Linked DNA regions of Homo sapiens: region 2 is linked to region 1. The links come from fine-mapping of genetic effects on gene expression. A gene starts in region 1. The other region holds a variant in brackets. All regions are shown on one strand. Distances are between the middles of the regions. Region 1 holds the start of HLTF (helicase like transcription factor). Region 2 overlaps HPS3 (HPS3 biogenesis of lysosomal organelles complex 2 subunit 1).

The links.
Region 2: its variant is fine-mapped to the expression of HLTF in thyroid (GTEx, PIP above 0.99).

The regions. Positions count from the first base shown.
Region 1 is chr3:149,079,331-149,092,792 of GRCh38, forward strand. It overlaps HLTF (helicase like transcription factor), which reads right to left and starts at 7,203. Exons shown (of 25, transcript NM_003071.4): 1 at 6,987-7,203; 2 at 5,352-5,559. The coding sequence starts at 7,006. It overlaps HLTF-AS1 (HLTF antisense RNA 1), which reads left to right and starts at 7,002. Exons shown (of 3, transcript NR_046648.1): 1 at 7,002-7,148. RefSeq lists enhancers at 6,530-7,047, 6,953-7,162, 7,048-7,565.
Region 2 is chr3:149,134,899-149,142,898 of GRCh38, forward strand. It overlaps HPS3 (HPS3 biogenesis of lysosomal organelles complex 2 subunit 1), which reads left to right. Exons shown (of 17, transcript NM_032383.5): 2 at 5,106-5,600; 3 at 6,119-6,290; 4 at 6,397-6,482. Among named protein-coding and RNA genes, the nearest start is that of HPS3, 9.3 kb to the left of the region's middle. The variant A/C (reference allele first, on the strand shown) is at 4,056.

The DNA.
Region 1 (13,462 bases):
GAAGTTTGAGACCAGCCTGGGCAAAAGGGTAACGACAGTTTCTAAAAAAAAAAAAAAAAAAAAAAAAAAAAAAAAAAAAAAATTATTTAAAAAAATAAAAATTTTTAAGTATAATTTTTTGTAATTTTTGTCCTATCTCATTAAAAAGTATATAATTATAAATCTTTGTTGATAGGTATACTACATATATAAAGATATAACTTGGATAACAGCACAAAGGAAGGCAATAGGATGGAGCTGTGAGCAAAGGTTTTTTTGGGGTTTTCTTTGTTGTTGTTTTTTTGAGACAGAGTCTTGCTGTCACCAGGCTGGAGTACAGTCGCACAATCTCGGCTCACTGCAACCTCTGACTCCCTAGTTCATGCGATTCTCCTGCCTCAGCCTCCCAAGTAGCTGGGACTACAGGCAGGTGCCACCATGCCCAGCTAATTTTTGTATTTTTAGTAGAGATGGGGTTTCACCATGTTGGCCAGGATGGTCTCAATCTCCTAACCTCGTGATCCACTCACCTTGGCCTCCCAAAGCGCTGGGATTACAGGCGTGAGCCACCATGCCCCATGCCCAGCCACAAAGTTTTTTATATACTGTTAAGTTGGCACTAATCCAAACTAGGTTCTTATAAATTAAGTTGTTAATTGTAATCCCTAAAGCAATCATAAGTAACTCAAAATATATAGTAAAAGAAACAAGGGAATTAAAATAGTACACTAAAAAAAAAAATCTATTTAACATAAAAATGAGTATTGGAGGCCAGACCCAAATGCCACATATTGTATCATTTCATTTACGTGAAATGTCAAGAGGAGGTAAATCCATATACACAGGAAGAAGACTGATTCATGGTTGCCAGGGACTGAGGGGTAGAGATAATGGGAGTGACTACAAATGGGAATGAGGTTTCTTTTTGGAGTAATGAAAATGTTTTGGAACTAGATTGTAGGGATGGTTGCACAACCTTGTGAGTATTCTAAAAACTACTCAACTGTACACTTTAAAATGGTAAATTTTATAATAAATGTATCTCAATTTTAAAAAATTCCTTGAAAATATACAAGAAAGCTGCTTCAAACCTCTCCCAGCATGTCTACTGACTCAAGAGATTACAGCCAGAACTAAACAGAGTATTAGACAGATATTCATCTCTAGACTTTTAGAGATATTATCTATGAGGCAGAGCTATGTTCTCTCCCAGTCGCCACCCCTCTGCCACTGCCTACAGGATGATCTTTTTTAAACCGGATTATGCAAATCCTAGAAAATACATAACCAAAATAAAAAAGCAGGGCACAAAACTAACAATTTTTGAGCATTTCATCTCAAGGTATTACATAATTGTAATTTATCATAATAAGCTATCATTAATTACAATTAGTTAACTGTCGTTACAAATAAGTAATTACTAGAATTTTAAATAAAATATATATGAGCCAAAATATTGGAGACTATAAAAACAAAAACATGGTCCCAGCAGCAAGAAAAAACAGGACATATAAAAAAACAAAAAGACAAAGACAAGAATAACAAAAGGAATGAGAATTAATCATAACAGTATAGTCATACCCCGCATAACAACATTTCAGCAATGACAGACCACATGCATTATGCAACAGTTGTTCCACAAGATTATAATGGGGCTGCCCTATAGAAGTGTACCATTTTTCATATTTTATACAATATTTTTACTGTACTTTTTTCATGTTATATATGCTTAAATACACAAATGTGTTACAATTGCCCACAGTATTCAGTAAAGTAACATCTTGTTCACTCTGTTTCCACAAAGAAATCACCTAACACTTTTCTCAGAAAGTATCTTCATTGTTAAGCAACACATAACTGTATTTTAAAATAGAAAAAGAAATAAACCACATTATAAAATAAAGCCTTTGATGGGTCAAAAAATAAACTTAACCATATGCTTATTGAAAACACACTAAAAAAAAAAAAACAAAAAATAAAAATGAAATAAGAATAAGAAAACACCAGAGTTAAAAATAAAGAATGCTACTACATAACAAAACGTGGTGGCTAAAGGCAACGCAATACTTAACACGTTTAAAGATTAAAAGATTAAATGACTCAAATTAAGTGCTCAAATCGCAAGTCCAACAGAAATGAAAAGAAAATAAATCTAAGTAGAAAAACCGAATGTAAGAGTAATTATTAAGCCAAGAAACACAATCATTAAGAAAAATTCAAGAGAGCCTGCCTTGAAAAGAAATAATGTCATAGCTAATCAATAAAAAAGACACGAATGTGTAACACAAAGAATAAAAACAGGAATATAATCACCTTTTTAAAAAAGTTTTTAAAAAGTTTAATGGAGCCAATAAGGCATATAAAATTATGTTCTGGCAGACATTAAAAAAATGGCACATTTTATCAAAATTTGACAATTCAGAGTAAAGGGTACTGAAATTTAAGGTTCAGAGCACCAACTTAAAACAACCAAAAAAATGGTTATTCAACTTGGAAAGAGTAACTAGAACCAAGGCATAAAAGGGAGTTTAAGTATGTGTTCCTCCAATTCAAAATCCTTCAGGAATAGGAGTTCTGGCCACTTGTGAGCAACACATCATACCACCAAACCCCAATTCCAGAAAATTACAGTTACAATTTTATAAGGATAAATGATTACTATGCACAATTCTATGGGAATAAGTTTGAATATCTAAATAAAATGGATGCTTTTCTTCAAAAATGTAACTAACCAAAATAGACCAAAGAAGTACCTAAATTATGCTGAGTGAAAAACGCCAGACTTAAAATAGTACATACTGTAGAATTCAATGTATATGAAGTTCTAGAATAGGCAAAACTTATTTATAGTGATAGAAGACTTGTGTGGCCGGGCGCAGTGGCTCACACCTGTAATCCCAGCACTTTGGGAGGCCGAGGCGGGCGGATCACGAGGTCAGGAGATACAGACCATCCTGGCTAACACGGTGAAACCCCGTCTCTACCAAAAATACAAAAAAATTAGCCGGGCATGGTGGCAGGCGCCTGTAGTCCCAGCTACTTGGGAGGCTGAGGCAGGAGAATGGCATGAACTTGGGAGGCGGAGCTTGCAATGAGCCGAGATCCCGCCACTGCGCTCCAGCCTGAGAAACAGAGCGAGACTCCGTCTCAAAAAAAACAAAAAAAAAGAAAAGAAATGAGACTCGTGGCTGCCTAGGGCAGGAACAGGGAAAAATGAATGCAATAGGATACAAGATACTTTGAGGGAGACGGATACAATCTGTATCTTGATTGGGGTAGTAGTTATCAGGTATACATCTTTGTCAAAACACTAGGATCATACATTTAAAATATGTACATTTTATCATACGTAAACCACATCTCAATAAAGTAGAAAAAAAATTAAAATAACAAGTATGCAAAGATAGTATCTCAATTTTTATTATTTTTATAATAGTGATTAACTCAAAAATGTCCATCAACAAGGAAATTATAAGTCCAATATAGATGATATTCCTAATCACATTAGGCATAATATGATCTCATTTTTATTAATACATAATATGATTCCAATTTACATGCACATGCTCACAGAAACAAGTGTAGAAGATAAGTTATGGTTCTGGATGATAGACTTCAGAAGATTTAATGCCTTTTTAGCCATTTAAAAATAATGAACGTGGCTGGGCGCGGTGGCTCATGCCTGTAATCCCAGCACTTTGGAAGGCCGAGGTGAGTGGATCACCTGAGGTCAGGGGTTCAAGACCAGCCTGACCAACATGGCAAAACCTCATCTCTCCTAAATACAAAAAATTAGCTGGGCATGATGGCGCATGCCTGTAATCCCAGCTACTTAGGAGGCTGTTGCAGGAGAACCGCTTGAACCTGGGAGGCGGAGGTTGCAGTGAGCCAAGATTGCACCATTGCACTCCAGCCTGGGCAATGCAAGCAAGACTCCGTTTCAAAAAAAAAACAAAAACAAATAAAAGAACATGCATTAATTATAAAATAAATGATATCTCAACATAGTGTTCCTGGAAAAAAATAAAATTTAAAGTATATATATTTGGCAAAATAAGAAAACTGATGATTACTTTTTATCAACACACACTAGAGTTTACCGAAGTCATAGAGATTATTCTCAGATCAAAAATACTGATTGTTCTAAGATCAATAACTACCATAATCTAGTATTTCATGGTGGTATAAAATAATTATCGAAAGCAATGTAAGTTTTGAAAAATTAGCACAAATCTGAAACAGAAAAGCTCAGAAATGCATATGAGAGCCAGAGAATATATAGATGTGAAATAAGAACTGATAGAGTTCAAGAATCTATTAGAAAAAATTAGAGGCCGGGTGCAGCATCCCAGCACTTGGAGAGGCCAAGGCGGACGGATCACTTGAGCCCAGGAGTTCCAGATCAGCCTGGACAACATGCCAAAACCTAAAAAAAAATACAAAAAAAAAAAATACAAAAATTAGCTGGGTATGGTGGTGAACGCCAGCAGTCCCAGCTACTCAGGAGGCTGAATTGGGAGAATTGCTTGAGTCTGGGAGGCAGAGATTGCAGTGAGGCCAGATCAGGCCACTGCACTCCAGCCTGGGCAACAAAACGAAACTTGGTCTCAAAAAAAAAGAAAAAAAAAAAAATCCAATTCACTTAAGTGAAAGAAAATCACACTGGCCTGAGAATTCTATGCAACATTAGGATATGGAGATTTTATTACAAAGATTTTATTACAAAGATATATTACAAAGATTTTAAATTCAGCCCAACTGTCATTAAGTCCTTCATAACTTTCATTTTATGAAACTGTCATTCATAAAATGCCACAAGTATGAAAATATAAAAACTTAGGAAATATTGTCTCTTCCTAAGGAATCTCCTAGACAACACATTTCAGACAATCAAAAAACAATTTGAAACGTTCCAATGTAAAGGAAATACAGGAGAAAAACAAATCCAGAACATGAAACTCCTAAGGAATCTCCTGTCGAACATGCTTCAGACACCCTATTGAGAAGCTTAAACATAAGAAACATACGGAGAAATGAAAGAATAAAATCCAGAAGATTCCACAAAACGATCTCCTTTTTGCAACAAATCGATGACATGAACAAGGCGCTGGGGTGTGGGGGTGGGGTGCTACCCATAATAACCAAACATAACGCACTGAGGCCAAGCATATTGGCTCATTCCTGTAATCCCAACACTCTGGGAGGCTGAGGTGGGAGGGTCACTTAAGGTATTTGTTATTTTTTGCGTACAAATATTTAACTAACTTAAAGTAAAATAAAGATTAACCGCACACATCACCTGCGAATTCTCTTATTTTCTAGGTTAACGCCAGAAATATAATCAAAATTTAATTATCTACTATTATACTCACTACTCCCGTGTAATAGCGTAGTCCAACCACATGACCTCTCAAACTTCCAAATAAAACGGAATCTACTTCTTCATCACTAGTTAGAAAGTCATCTGGAGGGATAACATCTTGGAATTCAAAACGTGGAAAGAAAGTTGGATATGAGAGGCGTGGAAAATTTCCATGAACTCCATACTGGACAGTCTGCAAGTACTTCCAAACTGGATCCCTATTTTTTTTTAAAGGCAAAGAAAAACAATATAATATTTAAGTATTTCCAAAGACCATATGAGTAGTTTTCTCATGCTTTACTTCAGCAAATGAAATCTTACATGGGAATCACGGTAAAGATTAATAGTTACTCTCGTTAAAGCAGGAATTGCAGTGAGTGGAGAAGGCTTCTAGGAACTCTACCTGTTTTCAATATTGGCTCTTCTACCTGCCCCCTAGGTATTCAAAATGAAAAGCCTAGTCAGAGTTCACTAACCTCTTTCCCAGTGAAAATCATCTAAATTGATATGTATATGATGTCTGTAACTACAATTATGGGCCGGATGCGGTGGCTCACGCCTGGAATCCCAGCACTTTGGGAGGCAGAGGCAGGTGGATCACCTGAGGTCAGGAATTTGAGACCAACCTGGCCAACATTGTGAAACCCTGTCTACTACAAATACAAAAATTAGCCAGGCGTGGTGGCGCCCATATGTAATCCCAGCTACTCGGGAGGCTGAGGCAGGAGAATCACTTGAACCCGGGAGGCGTAGGTTGCAGCGAGCCGAGATTGTGCCACTGCACTCCAGCCTGGACGACAGAGCGAGACTCCATGTCAAAAAAATAATTTAAAAAATGAAATCATATGCCAAAATTTCAATAGGGATTGAGCTATATAAAAGACTTATAAAAATACAACTATTAATGTACCAGAAGTTGTTTATAATTTTCCAGAAAATACATCCAGCATCCATCACTGTAACTCCCTGCGAGCAGAACACCTATTCTGGTATCCAAACCACGCCACCGTGGGAAATTGGCCCCAAGCCACCCGTACCCGCCTTCCGTCGCCGGTTTAAGCATAACCCCAAACCCATTAGGTGTAACTGTTTCGGGAATGACCATAAATACCAATTTGGACAATGAAAAGTGAAGGGGAGTCTACTGGAGCATTGCAAAAAGTTTCCATTCTCCTAAGAACAGTCGCTTATTTGCGATGCGTTTTCCTTGCAAGTGGCGCATATCTCTACTAGCGCCTCTGCAAATACTTATCTGCACGTCTGTGCATACAGATAAGCTGTGAGCCACTTGGGGACAAGGACTGTCTTACTCGGCCCTCCACCGAGCACAATGCCTGGCGCACAGTGGGTATCTAATGGATGTTTTGTTAAATAAAGCACTGGCCGAGATGCTTTAAGCCCCAGGCCCCCCACAGTCGGTGACAGAGATTTCCCAAGTCCCTAACACGGGACTCGCCCTAGGAGCCCCTACTCGCCAGCGAAGACAATGCATTTATTTCTCCGGCGGCCACATATGCGACCAACAGAACGAATACAGCTGCACAAATCGCCCAGGGAACGCAGAGGAACGCGGGGAAGGTCAGGTTCATTTGGGGACGCCTCCAGGCCGTTAGACCGAGCGCCCCACCCCCTCCGCCCCCTTCACCTCTTGAACATCCAGGACATGGCGCTGAGTGGGATGACAAGAGGAGCGCCTCGGCTCCCCTGGATCGTTTTCGAGCCGCCTCGATACGCCTCCTTCCAGGCCCCGCAGCCCTGAAGCCGGGGACAAATTCCGAGCGCCGGATCAGGAGCGCACGACTGAAAGGTAAGTCGCCGCGAGTCCAGTCAGACGTCGACGCCGTCTCCTTCTGCAACAATCTGGGAGACCAGCGTCGCTCTGTGACTGGCACTAGGAAAGCCCAATCACGAAGAGGAGAGTGCGGAGCCAAACCAGTCAGAGCACAGAAGGGAGGGCAACTCCGCCCCGCTGCCATTCAAAGACGGCGGGGGGTCCGGGCTGCAAGGGTGGTTCCATCCGGGTTCTTCCCCGCCCCCAAGGCGGGCGCGCGGGAAAGCCACGAGGCCCCAGGAGTGCGACTGCGGTGCCTGCGGTGCCGGTGTTTTGTTTGATTCCCTGCCTCAAACGGAGGGAAACGACCTTCCTTTATCCTACGAGTCCTAAGACTGAACCCCATTCTAAAGGCTCTACCGTATCCTTCCTCTTATTTTCTTCTCATCTAATGTGGCACATAATAGGGCCTTATACTAAAGGAGCTCCACGGTTTACGAGACCTAGAGCTACCGGCGAGATACTTTACTTCATTCCCTGTGGTGAACCGTGGGGACTTTCGCTCCAAATTTTCATGTTAAGCCTCAGCGTATGCATGAGACACAACGAGTTTGGAAAATCTTAAATGGAACTTAGAGTCCCCTCCCCACCTCTTTTTGTTATTTTTAAGGAAAATTTTCCTTTCTTGGTGCAGGAAACCCATCACATGTTTATTACAGCTATGGGGGCGTTTGCCTGAAATGGTGGACGGGACCATTTTCCCCGTGGGCACTTGGCTGCTCCAGCCAAGAGGGGGAGGCCCTTGTTTTCCTCAAGGAACTGCAGAGGGGCGCTCTGAGGCCCTCCATGGCTCTCTTTCCAGAGTCTGAGGTGACCGGAAGGAGAATGCGGCCCTGGGACCGTCAACCTTGGACCAGCTGCAGCCGACGCCTGGCAGGGCTGGTCGCTTTGCGTTGAGGAGGCTGCTGTCCCCGAAGCTGGCCTTTTAATCGCACAGGGCAGGAAGCTGGTGGTGGCGCCCAGCTGCACAGGCGGCACCATGTAACTGCCAGATAATACTTGCGCGTCACAGAGAGGTCCATGTTACACGCCTGTCAGCACAATAATATTAGGTGGTCAGCTTTTCTTTTTTCTTTTTTTTGTTTTTTTTTCTTTTTTATTGAGATGGAGTCTTGCTCTGTCCCCCAGGCTGGAGTGCAATGGGGGTGATCTTGGCTCACTGCAACCTCCGCCTCCCGGATTCAAGCGATTCTCCTGCCTCAGCCTCCGGAGTAGCCGGGATTGCAGGAGCCCGCCACCACGCCCAGCTAATTTTTGTATTTTTAGTAGAGACGGGGTTTCACCATATTGGCCAGGCTGGTCTTGAACTCCTGACCTCAGGTGATCCGCCCGCCTCGGCCTCCCAGAGTGCTGGGATTACAGGCATGAGCCACCGTGCCAGGCCGGTAGTCAGCTTTTCAAGACACATTTGTTCATTATCGTAAATAAACTGTAGTGATCTCTAATCATGAACCATGGATGAGCAATAGAATTTGAAACAATGTATTATTTCATTTGACCAAAGTTGATGAGGAAGATAAAGACAATGGCATTTCAAATTATTTTAATTGTTGTATGTTCTTCTTGAAGTGTGTTGAGGCAAATGGCAATACAGTTCAGCTTTTAGTATGCCAGATTTTAAATAAATTCTTGGAAAATATGCCAGAAATTGCTCAAATTGATGTTTTGTAAGAGTAAGAAAGTCATGCTCACTAGACAAAGAAAAAATTCCAAATATGAGAACATAGCTCTTTCAGACTTAAGACTGGCCAGGCGCAATGGCTCACACCTATAATCCCAGCACTTTGGGAGGCCGAGTTGGGTGGATCACCTGAGGTCAGGAGTTCGAGACCAGCCTGGCCAACATGGTGAAAGCCTGACTCTACTAAGAAAATACAAAAATTAAGCAGACGTGGTGGCACGCACCTGTAGTCCTAGCTACTTGGGAGGCTGAGGCAGGAGAATCGCTTGAACCAGGGAGACATGGGTTGCAGTGAGCCGAGATCAAGCCACTGCACTCCAGCCTGAGCAACAGAGCGAGACTCCATCTCAAAAAAATAAAAAGACTTAAGATCTATGAATAATGACTGTCCCATGGTTAAAGAATGTGCTTTGAATGAACTAAAATTTGCTATTTAAAGGAATGGTATGGAAAGGAAAGGAATCCAAAATTTCTCCATCCAGCCACTTCCCAGTCACAAACACACTTCTCATCTGCACCCCCAGCCACACACACACACATGCCCGCGCGCGCGCACACACACACACACACACACACACACACAGAACCTTTATGCAAATTAATCATGTCATGTCACTCCCCTGTTTGATTCAGTGAGCCTGAAATCCAAGAATGGCATATGTGGCTCTTCCTCCCACAGTATGTTTTCTCTATGTTATCAATATTTCACATCCCAGAACCAGGAGTAAAACATTCTTTCCCTTAATCATTCTTTGTTTTATATTTAAAGATCAAGTACAATTTGTACTAGTTTGATTAAAATGTTACAGCAATTACAATTTCAAAACTATTATACTAAATAATGTTTTCTGAAAAATTAACTTTTTTGGTTTTTTCTTGATTTATTCTGATAACAGCATCACAAGTAGATATGAAAAATGAACACTTGTAACTGGAAAATGAACTGTAGGGTGGCTTGTGGGGTTTGGCTGGTGAGTAAGAAGGAAAGTGGCACTAAAAGGACGGTGGGGAAGATAAGGGCCAGGTTACATAGGAACTTAAGAGTCTCCAGTAAAATTTGTGTTTTAACTGCAATGGAAAGCCATTGAATGTTTCGAGCAGGAGGATAACGACTTGATTTAGGCTTTTAAAAATGCTGGCAGCTCTGTGGAGAATTACAGGAAACAAGGATAGAAGCAACTGATAGAAAATTATTGTGTTCAGATAAGAGATGGTGGTGGCTTGGAAAGGGAAGGTGATGAAGCCAAGAGAACCAAAATGTTCACTGATAAATTTAGGTAGGAATGGTATGGAAAGGAAAGGAATCCAAAATTTCTCCAGCCAGCCACTTCCCAGTCACAAACACACTTCTCATCTGCACCCCTAGCCACACACACACATGCCCGTGCACACACACACACACACACACACACAGAACCTTTATGCAAATTAATCATGTCATGTCACTCCCGTTTGATTCAGTGAGCCTGAAATCCAAGAATGGCATATGTGGCTCTTCCTCCCACAGTAGCTTCATTTCTCGGGTCACTTCCCAACCCACCCTGCCTATAATGGCCTTCACTAATTTCTCTAAAAACCATGGACCTGGCAAAATTAATAACAAATCACTTCTTAGTATCTTCTAATAACTAGTTCATAATCAAATGTTCACAATTGTCTCAAAAAAAAAATTTTTTTTTTTCTTGAGACAGGGTCTCACTCCAGTAGCCCAGGCTGGAGTGCAGTGGCGTGATTCGACCTCCTGGGCTCAAGCGATTCTCCAGCCTCAGCCCCCAAGTAGCTGCGATTACAGGCATGGCACCACCACCCCCAGGCTAATTTTTGTATTTCTTGTAGACAGGGGGTTTTGCCACATTGGCCAGGCTGGTCTCGAACTCCTGAGCTCAAGCAATCTGCCCGCCTTGGCCTCCCAAAGTGCTGGGATTACAGGCGTGAGCCACTTTTTCTAGGCCTTTTCTAGGCTGGGTGTGGTGGCTTACGCCTGTAACCCTGGTATTTTGGGAGGCCGAGGTGGGCAGATCACTTGAGGCCAGGAGTTCAAGACCAGCCTGGCCAACATTGTGAAACCCTGTCTCTACTACAAATACAGAAATTAGCAGGGGGTGATGGTGCCATACCTGTAGTCCCAGCTACTTGGGAGGCTGAGGCAGGAGAAGCACTTGAACCCAAGAGGCGGAGATGGCAGCGAGCCGAGATCGTTCCACTGCACTCCAGCCTGGGTGACACAGCGAGACTCCCTCTCAAAAAAAAATGTTTTTTACACTTTGCAAAATAGAATTTTAAAGCCATTGGTGTGGGGGCAGGGACCAGGCAGCAGGGAGGGGCTTTAAGAGAAGAATCTGAATATCTAGAAATCTGGCTTCAATACAGAAACTTTTAAGCTTATATCATAACTCATAGACTGAAGAAAGTAGGATGATGTAAGAGCTTGCTTGTTTGTTCGCTTCTTTCACTCCAAAGGAGATAAAAGTTCAATTGAGGAGAATTTTCAAGAATGTCAGGCAGGAGGGTTTGCAGAGTAAATCCCTTAAGTGGGTCTTAGAGAGAAGACCTAGAATACCATCACACTGGGCCAATCTGCACAAAGGGAGAATGCTAGAAAGTCTAGCAAAGTTTCTGTAGATTACACAAGAAAAGGAAGCTATGCCACATTTCCCAGAGAGTGGCCTCAGTATTCTGCAGATCTCAGAGAGAACCTCAGAGACTAGAAATGTGCCAAGGCAATAAAGGAGTAAAGGTGACTGAGGTGGCTCTGTTAAGGGGACCCGGGGTAGCCTTGTGAGCCTCTAGCCCTGTGAAGGCTGGAGGGCATCATCAGGATTATGGTTCTAGCAAACAAAAGCAGGATGCTGGTCCCCAACGGTGAGGTGAGATGAGTTACATCTGCAATGGGTGACTGCATTAGATGAATGGAGTCCAAATATAACCTCCCTGGTGGGTAAGACGAAGGGAACTAAATCTGAAAGCTGAATTTAAATGACTTTAAATCTTAAAATGACTGAACTATTCAGAAGTGACTAAATTAGGTTACCTGCCATTAGGCAGAATGAAGGTTTAAGAAAAATTAAGTTCAATAAAGAAATATAAAGTTTTACATTTGCAAATATAGTCAGTGATTGAAATTCATACATGCTATATGTCCATATGCACACATCTTGATGAAGATATACCTAGATATTTATAGTAAATACCTCTAGCTGGTTAAATTAGGGAATTTTCATTTTCTTCTTTTTACTTATATGTATATAAAATATTTGCTACATTAAACATGTATTTCTTTTTGCCATAATAAAATAAAATGAGTAATTTATTAAAGAAATGATGAACTATTATTCAGCTTTATTTTTATCTAATTGTAGACTTACAGAAAATTACAAATTTAGTACAAATTGTTGCCTCATATCCTTTATGCCACTTATTTTAATACCGTACATAACTATAGTACAATGACCAAAATGAGGATATGAACATTGGTACAATACTATTTCTGAACCATTTTTTTAAATAACCAAGACAATGCAGTGGAAAAGAAAATATAATATTTTGTGACTTATTAAATTTTCTTATAATCAGGTTTCTCTAGATTTTGGACAAAATCCTGAGTAAAACCACAGCTGACAGGGCCAAAGTGATATTAAATTAATGCCAAGTAAAAATCTTCTTAATTAAATAATATAATGAATATGAAGTGCTGCCCTGGAGTAAGCACTCAGTAAGTGCTCTTATTGTTGTAATAGAGTTATTGTCTAACGAGTCCTCTAGCACTTAAGAAATATGGTTGATTGAGGCCTATTTTCCTTATTGAGGCTCAATCAGCAGGGTTGTTCCTAAATAGCAGAATAACACTGTTTCCAGAAGCCAGTCATTTTTCCAGGTGCACGTCCTTGAAGTAGACTGAATTGTTTCATCAAGCGGTAGGAGACACTCTAATCTCAACTCCGCGTCTGAGAAATCTGTGGTGTTCCAGATTATATAGCCCTTTCCCAGGAGATAATTGTTCCCTCCTCCTTTAGGCCTTGACTCACTAAATGCTCTTATGTGGCTCAAGCCCAGGGTTGCAAGGCATCAGGCCAGCCAGGGATCTGCCCCCTCCTTTGCTTTCTGCCCAGGGTCCTTTCCCCAGCTTCAGGGAAGTACCACTCTAGGCCCTGGAATGATTTAGGGTTTCTGTCATGGCCATACCAAAGTAATCTTTTTATTTTAATGAAAACTGCAAGGATTAATAAACATTTTTTCTGCCTCCTTTTTTTTTTTCCTCTTTTAAGACAGGGTCTTGCTCTGATGCCCAGGCTGGAGTGCAGTGGCACAAACAAGCTCACTGCAGCCTCAAACTTCTGGGCTCAATTGATCCTCCTACCTGTCTCCCAAGTAGCTGGGCCTACAGGCATACACCACCATGCCCAGCTAATTTTGTTTGTTCGTTTTTTTTTTGGAGAGACAGGTTGCCCAGGCTGGTCTTGAACTCCTGGGCTCAAGTGATCCTCCTACGCTCCTACCTCGGCCTCCCAAAGTGCTGGGATTACAGGCATGAGCCACACGCCCAGGCTTTCTGCCTCCTTTATGGCTAGAACATTAAAACTTCAACTCTAAATGCCCTTTTGATATAAGA
Region 2 (8,000 bases), 53 kb after region 1:
ACCCACAAATGAACATAAATAGAGCTGACTCTGGCTATGATGGTATCCAGATAACTTGTTTTCCACTTCACAGCTTTTCCCTTTTGGCCCCTTCCTTCCATTCACAATAACTGGGACATGAGGATTCCGGCTCAATGCCCAGTGTCCTCCTCTGTAGCAAGTCTCCTCCTCAAAAATGGAAAGAATCTTACATCAGCCATCTATGTTTACTAAAAATGCTTTTCAGGTCTCTACTCAAGCAGAAAACATTTTCAGGTTAAAAAAAATCTCAAATTAGCTGAAAGTTTTTAAAATAAAATTTGGGGGTATTAGGGAGAAAGCAGGTAGAAATTTTGAAGGATGGGGACCTCTGACATCGTCATCAGTAAGGGAAAATAAATTTAGGCTTTGTGTGTGATACGGTTTGGCTGTGTCCTCAGCTAAAATCTCATCTTGAATTGTAGTCCCCATAACCCCCACGTGTCAAGGGCGGGACCAGGTGGAGGTAATTGGATCATGGGGACAGTTTCCCCCATGCTGTTTCTCATGATAGTGAATTCTCATGAGATCTGATGGTTTTTAAGTGTCTGGCATTTCCCCTACCCACACTTATTTTCTGTCCTGCCGCCCTGTGAAGAGGTGCCTTCCACCATGATTATAAGTTTTCTGAGGTCCCCCCAGCCATGCAGAACTGCGAGTCAATTAAACCTGTTTTCTTTATTACCCAGTCTCAGGTATTTGCTTGTAGCAGTAATGTGAAAATGGACTAATACAGTGTGTAAAGCAAAGAAGAGGGGAGACCTGAGAACTCCTCACTCCTGAAAGAGAAAGACCTGGTGGCCAGGGTTGAGTGCTGTATGGGGACCTTTGGTGGTAGACACTTGTTTATGGGGTGTCTAGGGGTGGTGGGGCATGGAGGATGCAGACCACAAGGCTGTAATTGCCTGGCCATTAGCACAAGTGTACTAAACCAGCCCCAGCCCATCTACCCCTCCCACAAGCCCTACTTTCTCTCAGTTTTCCTGGAGTCATAAAACATATTTAGATGCCTTATAAATTATTTCTGCCTTGTGATTCAATTTTGTCATAGGAGTACAGCCTTTGATCTGGTATTACTGTTAGCCATGTTTGTGATCTTGCTACATAAAAGGGAAAGTTTACTTATTTTTAAAAATCAGTAACTCTAAGCTCAAGAGTAAAAATGAGAATGATTTTTCAATGTACTTAATAAAGACAGAAGCTGAGCCTGGGCTACATAGTGAAACCCTGTTTCTACATATGTGTGTGTGTATATATATACACACACACATTATAATATATGTATATACATATATATATACACACACACACACAAATTAGCCAAGTGTGGTGGCTCACACCTGTAGTTCCACCTACTTGAGAGGCTGAGGTGGAAGGATCACTTGAGTCCGGGAGGTGGAGGTTGCAGTGAGCCAAGACAACTTGGGCAACGGAGCAAGACACTTAAATTTAAAAAAGGTAAAATGAGGCACTGCACACATAAAGCTTAAAAAATTTAGTTCCCTTCTCTTTTAAAGGGTTATAGCCTCCACAGACTCCTGTAGAGTTGTATTTCCCTTCTATCAGTTGGGGAAACAGCATTACTGGGCAAAGAACATAAACTTTTGAGCTAACCAGATCTAGGTTTGAGTCCCAGTTTCCTAATTTGTTCGTTGTGTTGCCTTGGACAAGTTACTTTGCTTGTCTGTGCTTCAGATTCCTGATGTATAAAATGAGGAGGGAGATTTGTATCTTAAAGGGCTGTTGTGAGAGTTAATTGAAGGAACTCTAAAGCTCTGATCATAAGGATTGTCAGGCAGGCACATTTAGCAAGTGCTGGATCATCATTTAAAGACCAGGTCATTAATCTGAAAGCACACAATACAACATGGACACTATCTACAATTTGCATACTATAAACATTAGTTAATATATGAATTTTATAGATGAAATGGGCATGTATTTATAGGTATATGAATAAAAAGGTTTTATTGTAATTAAATATTCTTAGTTTTAAAATTTATTTACTAAATTATGATACCAAAAGTATAGGCAACAGAAGAAAAATAGATAAACTAGACTTTATCAAAGTTAATGACTGTTGTATATCAAAAGACTCATCAACAGATTGAAAAGACAACATGGAATGGGAGAAAATATTTCCGAATCATATATCTCATAAGGGATTAATATCTAGAATATATACAATAAAGAACTCTTACAACTCAACAACAACCAAAAAAACTTGATTAAAAAATGGGCTAAGGACTTGAATAGACATTTCTACAAAGAAGAAAATACATAAACGGCAAAAAACATAAGAAAAGATGCTCAAAATCACTGATAATTAGGGAAATGCAAATCCAAACCACAGTGAGATAGCACCTCACACCCATTAGTATGCCTGTTATTAATAAAACAGAAATTAACGTGTTGGGGAGAATGTGGAGAAATTGGAACCCTTAAACGTTGCTGGTAGGAATGTAAAATAACACAGCCTATGTGGAAAACAATATGGCAGTTTCTCAAAACATTAAACATAGAATTACCATATGATCCAGCAATTCCACTTCTGGGTGTATACCCAAAATAATTGAAAGCAGGGACTTGAATGGATACATGCACACCAATGTTTGTAGCAAAATTATTCACAAGAGCCAAAAGGTGGAAACAGTCCAAGGATCCATTGACAAGTAAATGAGTAAATAAAATATATTGTATGAACATACAATAGAGTATTATTTGGCCTTAATGAAATTCTGATGCATGCCACAACCTGGATAAATCTTAGAGAAGTTATGCTAAGTGATACAAGCCTGATACAAAAGGAAAAATACTATATGGTTCAACTTACATGAGGTACCTAGAGTAGTCAAATTCATAGAGATAGTATAATGGTGGTCTCACCCTGGGGAGAGGGAGGAATAGGGAATTATTATTTAATCAGTGCAGAGTTTTTTAGTAGATGAAAAAGTTAGTTATAGAGATGGATGGTAGTGATGGTTGCATAGCAATGAGAAGATACCAGTGCCACTGATCTGTAGACTTAAAAATGGTGAAAATGTACATTTTATGTTGTGTGTATCGTACTACAATAAAAAAAATTTATTTATTTACTGGGGGAATTTTAGGAAGATGGAGGCCTCAACTTCATCCCAACTCTGTCCAAACTGCTTCCCTGGAAAAGTGAACAAACTTAGGGCACCTGCAGGATCTCTTTAGGCATTCTACGATCTCCAGGGAAAGAACAGGTTCAGGCTCCATCTCTGTGGCATAAAAAGAACCATCATCAGGAGAAAGCTTGCTACCTGTAGAAGTCAGGATCATTTTGGAGGAGGGAGCCTGGTCAGCCCAGTGAATGTCTGCAGAAAGGGGCAGCACCTGTTTGCTTGCCTCATAAGTACATGGGAAGTCAATGTAATGGCAGCATTTCAATTTCAATTCATCGGAAAAGGGCCAATTTGCTTAATAGTGTTAATATAATAGAGTCTACATTTGGAAGAAGTGACATTAGATCCTCTGACTTATCTCCTTCTTTACCCGCAAAATTCTAAAGATTAAAAATGTATATTTTCTAAACCTCCACTAAAATAGAAGAAAATATAGGAGCATATTTATGTAATTTGGAGGACATGGATGGGAACTCAGAAGGCAAGGAGGAAAAGATACATATAGTATACTCTAAATAAAAAGGGTATGGTAAAACATGCCATCAGCAAAGTCAAAATCAGAAAATAGACTCTAAAACCATTTACTATTTATAGACGACAAAAGGTTTATATCCCTTTTAAGTAGAGAGCTACAGTGTCATGATAAGAAAAACAAATGAACAACTTAATAAAAATTGGACATCATGCAGAAGAGAAACTATACATGGCTGATAAACGTAGGAAAAGATGGCCAGCTTTATAAAAAGGTCTAGGAAATGTAAATTATAATAGCCGTGAGAGTCCATGTTTCTCTCATTGTGTAGAGTCAGTGCTAGTGAGGATGTGGGGAAACAGGTGTGTTTAAGCACTGCTGCTGGTAACATGAATTTCTATTATCTAATTGATAGT[A/C]ATTGGGCAATATTGAAATTTAAAATGCCCATGCCCTTTGGCCCAACATATCTCACTTTTGGGAATCTGTACCGTTAAAATAAATCCCCCAGTAAATAAATATATAGATATAAGCCTATGTATTACTATGAAACATAGTGGCAAAAAACCCTGGAAATATATTTGAATGCTTATCAGTAAGGGAATTATTGAATAAATTATGCGTATGTATGTACATATGGGATGTTGAACATATTGAAAAGGATGTTAGATATCCATGTATCAGCCTGGAGGGAGAGATTTATTAATAATTTTTAAAAGTTGCAGATTGTTAAATATATTTAATATGATTACATTTTAGTTTTTGTTCATTTTTAAAAAAGACAGAATACCTCTCTGTGATCTCTGTTTATATGAGAGAAAGGTGTTGAAAGGCACATACCAGGCTGTGTGTTAACATTGGGTCCTCAAGGGGGAGATCATTATGCTTTTCATTTTGCATCTCTTTACCACGTTACCATTTTGACTTCCCACAACCAATATATGTTTATAAGTTAAAACTTATACAATCAACAATTTAGAGAAAATTAACTTGGATCTGTATTTTCTTTGCTATTTCCAACTTTATCCTGTTTCTCAGACTTGTGACTTGTGGGAAGGAGAGGGTTTGAAATGTAAATTCTGCTAATCTGAGAATTCCTTAATGTATACCTAATTTTGGTGTCACCCTAATAGTGAATTCTGTGTCAGTAGAGCTTTGTTAGAACTGCAGATTTAGAGCTACAGTAAACACTTAATTTTACATTTTATTCCTTATATGAACTTTCTGTATGTTACATGGGCAATTAATAGGTTGTCTTAAGACACTCAGATGGGAGAGATTGCATTTCAGAACCTCAAAGCCTAATGTCAGTCAAAAATACACCTAAGATTTTGTTACTTAGGGTTTTATTCTATTCAGTCTTTAATTCGACCATTTGTGTTAGAATTCATTAATAGTACTCATGTCAGCAAGGGAGGTGGTTGTATTTCTAATTACAAATTCTCAGTATAATCTTCATTCCTTCTCAGGAGATTATTTGGTAGCAATTGAAGAGAAAAACAAAGCTACATTTCTACGTGCTTATGTGAACTGGAGAAATAAAAGGACTGAAAACTCTCGTGTGTGTATCCGAATGATTGGGCATAATGTGGAGGGACCATTCAGCAAAGCCTTCAGAGACCAGATGTACATTATTGAAATGCCGCTTTCGGAGGCCCCCTTGTGCATTTCCTGTTGCCCTGTGAAAGGAGACCTTCTCGTTGGCTGCACAAATAAATTAGTCTTATTTAGTTTGAAGTACCAGATCATTAATGAGGAATTCTCACTATTGGACTTTGAACGTTCTTTAATTATACACATAGATAATATCACTCCTGTTGAGGTTTCTTTTTGTGTTGGATATGTTGCTGTCATGTCAGACTTAGAAGTCTTAATCGTAAAACTGGAGTCAGGCCCTAAAAATGGAGAGAGAGTTCACCACCATCCACATAAGACCAACAATCGAATAAGACGGACAGAAGAAGGTAAATAATGAATTTGACTTGCTTTCTTGTTTTAGGAATATAGAAAACCTTCACCTTTGGCAGTCTGAAGGTCTGTGGTATATATGGTGCCCGGCCATGTTATTTATAGATTTAGTTATTCCTATTTCATGGGATTTGGTTTTATGATCTGGCTGTCCATAGCTTACTCTGTAGCATGTGAATATATTTATCAGTAGAAGTAATGGAACAACCACTGCTAGATGAGGGGCTTCTAGTCCTAGTCCTCATAGTTACTAGTTGAATGACCTTGGGTTAATAATACCATCTCTGAGTTTCAACATCCTCATTTGTAAAATGGGGATGATAATACCTACCCTGTTGTACTTTATCAGTTGTGGAGATTAAATGAGCAAGTGCTAAGTCTTTTCACAACCACAGTGCCTTGTAAATGTGTGCATATTATAAATAAATGAAATTACTATATGTCTAATTGGTGAGAGGATGTTGTAAAATCTAATTTTCATTCAAGCAGGACTGTTACATTTTATTTTTTTAAGGCATCAGTAATGAAATTTCACAGCTTGAGTCAGATGATTTTGTCATCTGCCAGAAGCCCCTGGAACTTCTTGGTGAAAAAAGTGAACAGTCTGGATTATCTGTTACACTGGAGTCTACGGGATTAGCTGATGAAAAAAGAAAATATTCCCACTTTCAGCACCTGCTCTATAGGTATTATAGTGCTTTTTTTTTTTTTACCAGCATTTTATGTATATATGCCTGCTTAAAGTACATGGAAGTTATATTTTTCCCTTTCTCTGTCTTTTTAAACCCACAGACGTTTTGCTCCTGATATTTCGTCCTATGTCTTGTCTGATGACATCAAGCTACATTCCCTCCAGCTGCTACCCATTTACCAGACCGGTAAGCATGACAGTGCAGGAGTGCGACAGTGCAGCAAGGTGAAAATGCTCTGTCTGGGCTGGGAGTGAAGACCCATGTGGGTAATAGGTTTGGTGGTTTGGTTCTTCCACTGGAGTCTCCTTGTGGCCCTTTAACAAAGTTTTTTTTTTTGTTTTTTTTTTTTTTTTTTTTTGAGACTGAGTCTCGCTTTATTGCCAGTCTGGAGTGCAGTGGTGCGATCTCGGCTCACTGCAACTTCTACTTCCTGGGTTCAAGTGATTCTCCTGCCTCAGCCTCCCGAGTAGCTGGGACTACAGGCGCCCGCCACCAAGCCCGGCTAAATTTTTTTGTATTTTTAGCAGAGACGGGGTTTCACCATGTTGGGCAGGATGGTCTCGATCTCCTGACTTTGTGATCTGCCTGTGTTGGCCTCCCAAAGTGCTAGGATTACAGGCATGAGCCACCACACCCGACCTCTATTTTATTATTATTTATTATTTTTTTTCTTGAGACAGAGTTTTGCTCTTGTTGTCCAGGCTGGAGTGCAATGGTATGATCTTGGCTCACTGCAACCTCCACCTCCCGGGTTCAAGTGATTCTCCTGCCTCAGACTCCCGAGTAGCTGGGATTACAGGAATGCCCCACCACGCCCAGCTAATTTTGTATTTTTAGTAGAGATGGGGTTTCTCCATGTTGGTCAGGCTGGTCTCGAACTCCCGACCTCATTGATCCGCCCACCTCGGCCTCCCAAAGTGCTGGGATTACAGGTGTGAGCCACCACACCCGGCCCAAAATCCTTAGCAAATACCTATGAGTACTAGAAAGGGAAGTCATACCTGCTAGGAGAAGCCATGGAGAAGGCATGACAGACTGAACTCATTTCCCTTTTTGAAATGGCCTCTAGGCCCAAAAAGGAAATTGGAGACCTGTTAGAGCCAAGGTATGTGTGGGTTCTAGCTGGGTATTTGGCCAAGCTTCTTATGATTGGCTTGTGAATTAGGTGTAAAAATGTGGACTGAATGGAAAATAATTTAGAGCAGTTGTTTTCAACCCTGCCACACAATGGGCTTACCTGAATGCTTTTTAAGATATTGATACTCAGGCTCTACATGCAAGATATCAGTTACAGGGCCTGGGCATTAGTATTTTTTAAAAACTCCCCAAGAGTCTAATGGGCACCATGATTGAGAATCACTAATAGGCCCTGCACTCAGTTCTGGCCTGATTAACATCTTTAGATGTTATCTAGAGAAAGATACAAATATTATTCCGATTAAATGTGTTTCTAACCTTCATTTTTTTTTCTTTTAGTAAATATTTATTGAGTACCTACTATGTTGAGCATTGTGCTGAATACTAGGGAACTAACAGTGAGTGAAGTGCTTGCTCTTACGGAGCTAATTGTCTAGTGGGGGAAGGGAGACATTCGAATAACGGCAGATTCACAGTTGTACCCTGAAATGAGTGATCTGTGGTAAACCTCCCTGTGACAGCCTATAACAAAAGACCCTGACCTCATCTTGAGGTCAGGGAAGGCTT